Homo sapiens: one gene and its partner. The protein of the gene in region 2 purifies or fractionates together with the protein of the main gene of each other region. This does not show direct contact. Each region holds a gene or a part of one and is shown on either strand. Other genes may lie near its edges.

Evidence for each region.
Region 1: the proteins of TMEM51 (region 2) and PTER purify together in Homo sapiens (affinity purification with mass spectrometry; 3 studies listed by BioGRID and IntAct, with this or other methods). This does not show direct contact.

The regions. Positions count from the first base shown.
Region 1 is NC_000010.11:16,435,462-16,439,212, reverse strand, and holds the start of PTER (N-acetyltaurine hydrolase), read right to left. Parts: upstream 2,204-3,751; 5' UTR 2,166-2,203; intron 1,857-2,165; exon of another isoform or gene 1,546-1,856; coding exon of another isoform or gene 1,468-1,545; intron 1-1,467. UniProt on the Homo sapiens protein: N-acetyltaurine hydrolase that regulates feeding by catalyzing the hydrolysis of N-acetyltaurine into taurine and acetate. N-acetyltaurine has anorexigenic and anti-obesity effects that are dependent on GFRAL receptor and GDF15.
Region 2 is NC_000001.11:15,216,096-15,219,746, reverse strand, and holds part of TMEM51 (transmembrane protein 51), read right to left. Parts: intron 422-3,651; coding exon 4-421; 3' UTR 1-3.

The DNA of each region.
Region 1 (3,751 bases), on a different chromosome or scaffold from region 2:
AGCCACCTTCTGGCTGGATACTCCGCTACTGACCTCCAAAATACACATTTATTGATCTTTGATTGAATAAACAGACCCTTCCTGACTACCTTGTAATTTCAGCAGCAAATATGACCCAAAACTGGAAGACCCTCTCAATCTATTCTGGTTTGAGGGCTGCCCAATTAAAAAGGAAAAAAACTGGCCCAAAATATCATTAAATGGTAAAATCAGGATCTTATCCTCATAAATCCATAGATTATTACATCCACTAGCGACCTAGAGACCACTTACCTTTTTTTTTTTTTTTTTTGAGACAGAGTCTTGCTCTGACACCCAGGCTGGAGTGCAGTGGTGTGATCTCAGCTCACAGCCGCCTCTGCCTCCCAGGTTCAAGCAATTCTCGTGCCTCAGCCTCTCCAGTAGCTGGGATTACAGGCATGCCCACCACCATGCCCAGCTAATTTTTTGAAGAAAAGAGGTTTCACATGTTGGCCAGGCTGGTCTCGAACTCCTGGCCTCAAGTGATCCACCTGCCTCAGCCTCCCAAAGTGCCGGGATTACAGGTGTGAGCCACCGCGCCTGGCCTGAGACCACTCACCTTAATGTGTCTAGAAAACAGGCAGGCCAGGCGCAGTGGCTCACGCCTGTAATCCTAGCACTTTGGGAGGCCGAGGCAGCCAGATCATTTGAGCCCAGGAGTTTGACACCAACCTGGACAAAATGGCAAAACCCCGTCTCTACCAAAAATACAAAAAAAAAAACAAAAAACAGAAAATAAAAACTAGCCGGGCGTGGTGGTGTGCACCTGTGGGAGACTGAGCTGGGAGGATCACTTGAACGGGGGAAGTGAAGGTTGCAGTGAGCTGTGATAGCACCACTGCACTCCAGCTTTGGTGAAATAATGAGACCTAGTCTTAAAAAGCAAGAGGCCGGGCGCGGTGGCTTACGCCTGTAATCCCAGCACTTTAGGAGGCCGAGGTGGGTGAATCACAAGGTCAGGAGTTCGAGATCAGCCTGGCCAGTATGGTGAAACCCCGTCTCTACTAAAAATACAAAAATTAGCTGTGTGTGGTGGAGCGCGCCTGTAGTCCCAGCCACTCAGAAGGCTGAGGCAAGAGAATCGCTTGATCCCGGGAGGCGGAGGTTGCAGTGAGCCGAGATCGCACCACTGCACTCCAGCCTGGGCAAGGGCGAGACTCTGTCTTTAAAAAAAGCAAAAGAAAACCAACTTGTAGAAAGTCACTGAGCTGGAACCAGAACTAGAATAGGGCTCTACTCTTTCTGGGTCCAAAGTTCTTTAAATCAGCAACCCCTCTTACTGCCTATGTAAGGGTATACCTTTAGTTCCTGTTGACTTGGGATGTACAAAGAATGAGGTAGTCTAAGAGAGTAACAGCACACTGGCTGTGGAGTCAGAAAGACTCCACCTCTAAACTTTGTTTCCATCTCTAAACTTTCCAGCAGTGTGGCCTAATTTTTCTGTACCTTAGCTTTGTCGTTATCACTAGAATCCTTCACAGGGCTGCAGAGTGGATTAAGCAAGAGTGCACAGGACTCAGACATATGACCGCTGGTAATTGGCTTTTATAAACTGTCAAAAAATATAGACCTGTAATGCCAGCACTTTGGGAGGCCGAGGCAGCAGACTGATTGAGCCCAGGAGTTCGAAACCAGCCTGGGCAACATGGCGAGACACTCTCTACAAAAAATACAAAAATAACCGGACATGGTGGCACGTGCCTGTAGTCGCAGCTACTCAGGAAGCTCAGGAGGCTGAGGCAGGAAGTTCGCTTGAGCTCAGGAGGTCGAGGCTGCAGTGAGCTGTGATCGCGCCAAATGCACTCTAGCCTGGGAAGCAGAGCCAGACCCTGAATCTAAAAAAAAAAAAAAAAAAAAGCTTATTAAAGGAGGCTTAGCACAGCTACCCGATGACGCCCCCGGGCATTGCTGTCGAGCCACAGGGAGCTGGCGCCACACGGGACTGGCGCTCTTTGCAACGTCCCTCAAGCACTTAAGGAGAGGCGGCAGGGCCCAAGCGCAGCGGCTAGAAAATCCTTCCTTCCGGCAGGACCCTCGCGTGGAGCTCTGCAGCGAACCCTGGCCGCGCGGCCTCCGCCGTCGGGCCCCACTCTTCCTACTGGGCCCACAGTTCCGGCTCCTGCTCTGACTCCAAGAAGCCTTACCTCGGGTACAACGCGCTGCCTTCTCCCTGGGAACTTCCGGCAGGCCAACTTCCCTGGCCTTTTTAGTCTCCCCTGTGCCCTCCCACTTCGCCCTCTGGTTCTCTCCCCGCCCCTGGCCCGAGGTCACGCCCTCACCGAGTCCTAGGACACGCCCCGTGGGTCCTTGCCAAGCCCTACCTCTTCGTAGGACACGCCCTTCAAACCCTTGCCACGCCCCACCCTGGTCCGGGGCCGTTCCCCGCGTTTTTGCCTGGCCACACCCTCCTGCAGGCGCTGTCTGACTGTCGGTAGTTTGGCTGAATGAAAAAAATTCGGGGCTAGATCCCCAAACGGAAAGAAACTGTTGCATTTTCCCCAGATCCCAGTTCTCCATAGAACAGTCTGGAACAAGGGAGCATTCCGTAGCTCTTTTGGTTTTCCCCAAGAATAAATCGGAGGTGGTGCTCTGGCAATTTGATGTCACAGTGGGTTCTGGATCCTCATGCTGCATACGGAGAACTTTGGTTTTTGTGTTCCCACTTGTCACTGTTTCCTGCCCCGGTGCCGCGTTTCCTTCTCTTTAGAATTAGAGTGCCGTGCTAGAGCACTTGAACTGGCCCTGGTACTTGCTGTGACTGAAATAAACTTAGTATGTGTGAGTCTGTTGGCAAAACATGATGCTTGGAGCAGCTGCCACAGTAAAGAGTCATACCTTTAGGTATTGTAGGGGGCCAAGGGCAAACCTCTCCTTCGTCCTCTGAAAGTTTGCTGAAAATCAACTGACAAAAGACAGTTTCACAGTAGAAAAGGCATACAAATATACTAGATCGTAACTTTATGTGATCCGGGAGCCTTCAGAATGAAAACCCAAAGATGCAGGGGAAACGGTCCATTTTTTCGCTTAGGTTCAATAAAGTATGGACCGCCATGTATTCAGCTGGTGCAAAAGTAATTGCGGTTTTTAATGGCAAAAACCGCAATTACTTCTGCACCAACCTAAGAGATACTACGATGGCATAAAAAGGGTCTGAGCTAATGCCAATAGACTAAGTGAGCAAGCCCTGTCTGTTTAGATTCTTTTTGGCTTTTCTGTGCAGTGTTCCTTCCTTCTGGGTATAGAGCAGGATCCTTTCTGGAATGGGGGTCTTATGACCTACAGTCAAACAAAGCAGGGCAGAGAATTTCTTTACCGCCAGTTTTGACACAGAAAGGCAGGGGACACGCAGAGTCAAACTTTTAGGTTTTATGCTTGGCTTTGGGGATGAGGGGTTCTGGCTTCTGTGAATCACCTTGGGGAAGAGGGATTCCAGTTTCTAGAATGAGGGGCCAGAGGCAGGAGGACATGAGGTTAGAGAGAGCTGCTTCTAAGGCCTTCATTTTGGGGTATCATTTTCTGAACCCCAACCATATTACACTGTCATCAATTATTATTATTATTATTTTGAAATGGCTCTGTTGCCCAGGATGGATTTCAGTGGTGCAGTCATAGCTCACTGCAGCCTTGAACTCCTGGGCTCAAGGGATCCTCCTGCCTCAGCCTCCTGAGCAGCTGGGACTACAGGTGTGCACCACCACACTCAGCTAATATTTGTAATTTTTGTAGAGAT
Region 2 (3,651 bases):
CATTCAGTCGGGCGGCCGGGTGTCGGGGGCCTTCTCCTGGACTTCATCATACTGCGGTGGAGGAGTCAAAGGCTCTATCGAGGGAGGAGGGACGTTTTTGTCTGGGAGGTTGATCCTAAAGTCTTTGAGGTGAAGCTTTTCAGATTTAATCCTTCGAACTTTCAGCGGTTTCAGTCGTTTGGCCAACTTAGAGTTCTGCCTGTCAGGGGGGTTCCCAGGGCTGGCCTCCACGTCAGCCCTGGTGGATGTGGGGGTGGTCTCGTCGAGCCCCGTCAGTGACTCATAGGACGGGAGAGAGATGCTCAACCTCGGGTTCTGCTCCTCTCCCCTTGCTTCTGAGTAGTTTGTGTTCATCACTTCCTCGTAGCTGGGAACATAGTACCTTGAGGCAGCCTCCTCATCCTCCTCTTCTTCCTCCTGGCTGCAAGAAGACACACAGACAGGGAGAGTGTTAGCCTGTGCTCAAGTCATTCAAAATCCCAAAGGGATGGGCTCCAAAGAGTCCACACACAGCAGCCTTGTAAATAACAAATGGGTCTTAGAGGCAATAAAAGTGAATACTTCAAGTGTTTACTATGAGCTGGGCTCCCTTCTAAGTATTTTAGCAAATATGAACCAATTTCAGATTCCTGACAACACTATGAGTTAAGTACTAGTCATGCAGGACAGGACAGGTGAGTCCCCAAATTGGGGCTTAGCCTGGGAGGGTTCTTGGCTTCATCAAGGAAGGAATTCAAGGGTGAGCCAGTGGTGTTAGACCACAATTCTTTATTGAAGGGCACTGCTTCTTGTGGAGCAGGGCTAACTCATAGGCAGTACACCCTGAGTTGGCCACATAGGGGCTCTTGGAAATTGTATTTATACCCACTTTTAGTCACATGCAAATTAAGGGGTGGGTTAATGCAAATTGAGGGGCAAGCTATTTAAGACTTCCTAGGAAAGGTAACTTCTGGGTCGTTACCATGGAAAGGGATGGTAACTGCCAGGTCGTTGTCATGGCAATTGTAAACTGTCATGGCACTGGTGAGAGTGTCCCATGCTGATGAGCAATGAGGGCAGCCAGGGATCACCCTCGTTCCCGTTTGCTGGCTTTGGCTAGTGTTTTTTTAAACCTTATCTCATCTGGACCACATCCTGTTTTGGTCAGCAGGGTTATGATCAGAAAACAAGTCCTGCCTGTTTTCTATCTCACTATTATTATAATACCCAATTTATAGATGGACTGAGATACATCAAGATTAAATGACTTGGTCAGACCTTCAGGAAATGGGAGGGCAGGAAGTGAACACTGTACTCTCAACTACTCCACCATGTTATCTGGGTGTTAAACCTCCTTTGCCTTTAAGCCTTTCCCACTTAGCGACATGCTGCGTGAGCTATTCCAATGCTCAGCTGGGTCCTTTGGTCAAAGGCAACACAGAAATGTACAAAGTTGCTACCAACTTTCAGTAGAGAAAGAATATCTGAAATATAACATTTATGTGTGTCTCAAATTATTCTGTAATTTTATCTTCCAAGTTTATCCCAAGACTCAAAAAGATCAGGTCCTCTCAGCCTTATTCTCATTTGACTGTTGAAAGAGAAAACCAAAAAGTCAGGATATTTTCTACACATTTGTCAGAATTAACGCCAATAGCCACTTTCCAGGACTCTATACTTGAACCTGTGGGGTGATCATGGCCAACATCAGAAACCTCAAAGTCTGCCTTGGTTTTCCTCCCACCCTCCTTTAGGAATGAACTCAAATGTGCTCACAGCTAGGGTGGGGAATGATGAGTGATTGATATTTGTTCTTTTCTATATTTCTCAAGTTTTCTAGAATAAGCATGTGTGATGGTTAATTTTAGGTGTCAACCTGACTGGCCATGGTTGCCCATATTAAACACTGTGAGAGTGAGGGTGTTTCTGGAAGATACTAGCATTCAGCTCGGTGGGCTCTGTAAGGCAGATTCCCCTCCTCAGTGTGGTGGCACCATCCAACCCATGGAGGCCCTAGATAGACCCAAAGTCAGAGCAAGCAGGAATTTGACTCATTTCTCCCTGCCTCACTGCTTGAGCTGGGACATCTCATTTCATCTTCTCCTGCTCTCAGACTAGGATCTATACCCTCACCTCTCCTCGTTCTCAATCAGGCCTTCAAACTCAGAATGAATTATACCCCTTGCTTTCCTGGGTCTGCAGCTTACAGATGGCAAATTGTGGGACTTTTTGGCTTCCATGATCCCAGGAACTAATTCCTCATAATAAATCTCCATTTAAAAAAATATATATCCCCCTGGTTCTGTGTCTCTGGAGAACCCTGACCAATACAGCATATATTATTCTTTGCTATCAGAAAATGAGTTTAATTTGGAAATTGTATTTGTACCCACTTACACCCACTTTCAATTATGTGCAAAAGTAAGAAGTGGGTTAATGTAAATTGAAGGGCAAGCTATTTAGAACATTCTAGGAAAGGGATGGTAACTTCCAGGTCATTACCATGGAAAGGGGTGGTAACTGGTAACATTGGAGGGCAGAAATCCCTTCAATATAATGAGATTTTTTTTTCTTCTGGTGTGTACCCACAAGTGGCATTGCTGAATCATTTGGCAGCTCAATTTTGAGTTTTTTGAAGAAACTCTAAACTTCTCCACAGTGGTTGCACTAATTTACATTCCCACCATTAGTGTACCAAGGGTTCCCTTTAATCCATATTACATTAAGAACAATTCCCTTCCCACTATAAAGATAAGAAATGCTTGTAGAAAATTCAAACAACACAGAAACATCTAATGAAGAAAAGAAAAACATCCCGAATCCTTCTACCTGGAGACAAACCACTGTAACATTCTGGTGTATACCTTTCCTACCCCTCTCCAATCCCACAGCCACAACATTTGATGGGACCATAACCTGACCAAAGATGCTGTATTATATCCCCCTTTTCTCATTGTTGTGGATATGGTCCCACATTAACAAATATAGATCAACAGTTGCTGCATAGAACTCCATTGAATAGGTACGTCATTTAACTCAGTAGGTGGTTTTTTAGGTTGTTTCTAAGTTTTTGTTATCCTAAACAATGATCTGATAAATATACTGGTACAAACTCCTTTGCACCTGTGGGACTGTCTCCCAGGGATAAACTCTTATAAATAGGATCAATACGCACATCTTCAGTACTGCCCCTTATGGTGAAACTCTTAAGAAAGTTTCTATCAGTCAACATTTCATCAGCAATCCATCTTCCCTACAACTCTCCAACAGTAGGGGCTGTCTATCTTGATCAATATGATAGGCAAAAAAAAGAAAAGACATCTTTTTGCTTGCATTTCATGACTAATGAAGTTGAACATCTATTGGTTGAACATCTATGGAATATTCATAATCTTTGTCTGTTTCCTATTGGTATATTCATCTTACATATTCATTTCTAAGAGCTCTTTTTATAATAGGGATATCAACTATTATCATATCTTCCCCAATGTATCACTTATCTTTTAAATTTGTTGGTGGCATTTTTGCTCAAATGGAAAATTGCTTCCCAGCCATTTCAAATTAAAGCATACACACAGCATGCTGGGGTGAAGGGACAAGCAAATATGCTGGCCACCCCAGGCCCTGTTCAGTGACCCTGGGCGGGTCAAAATGCTGGTTCACTTAAGAGTA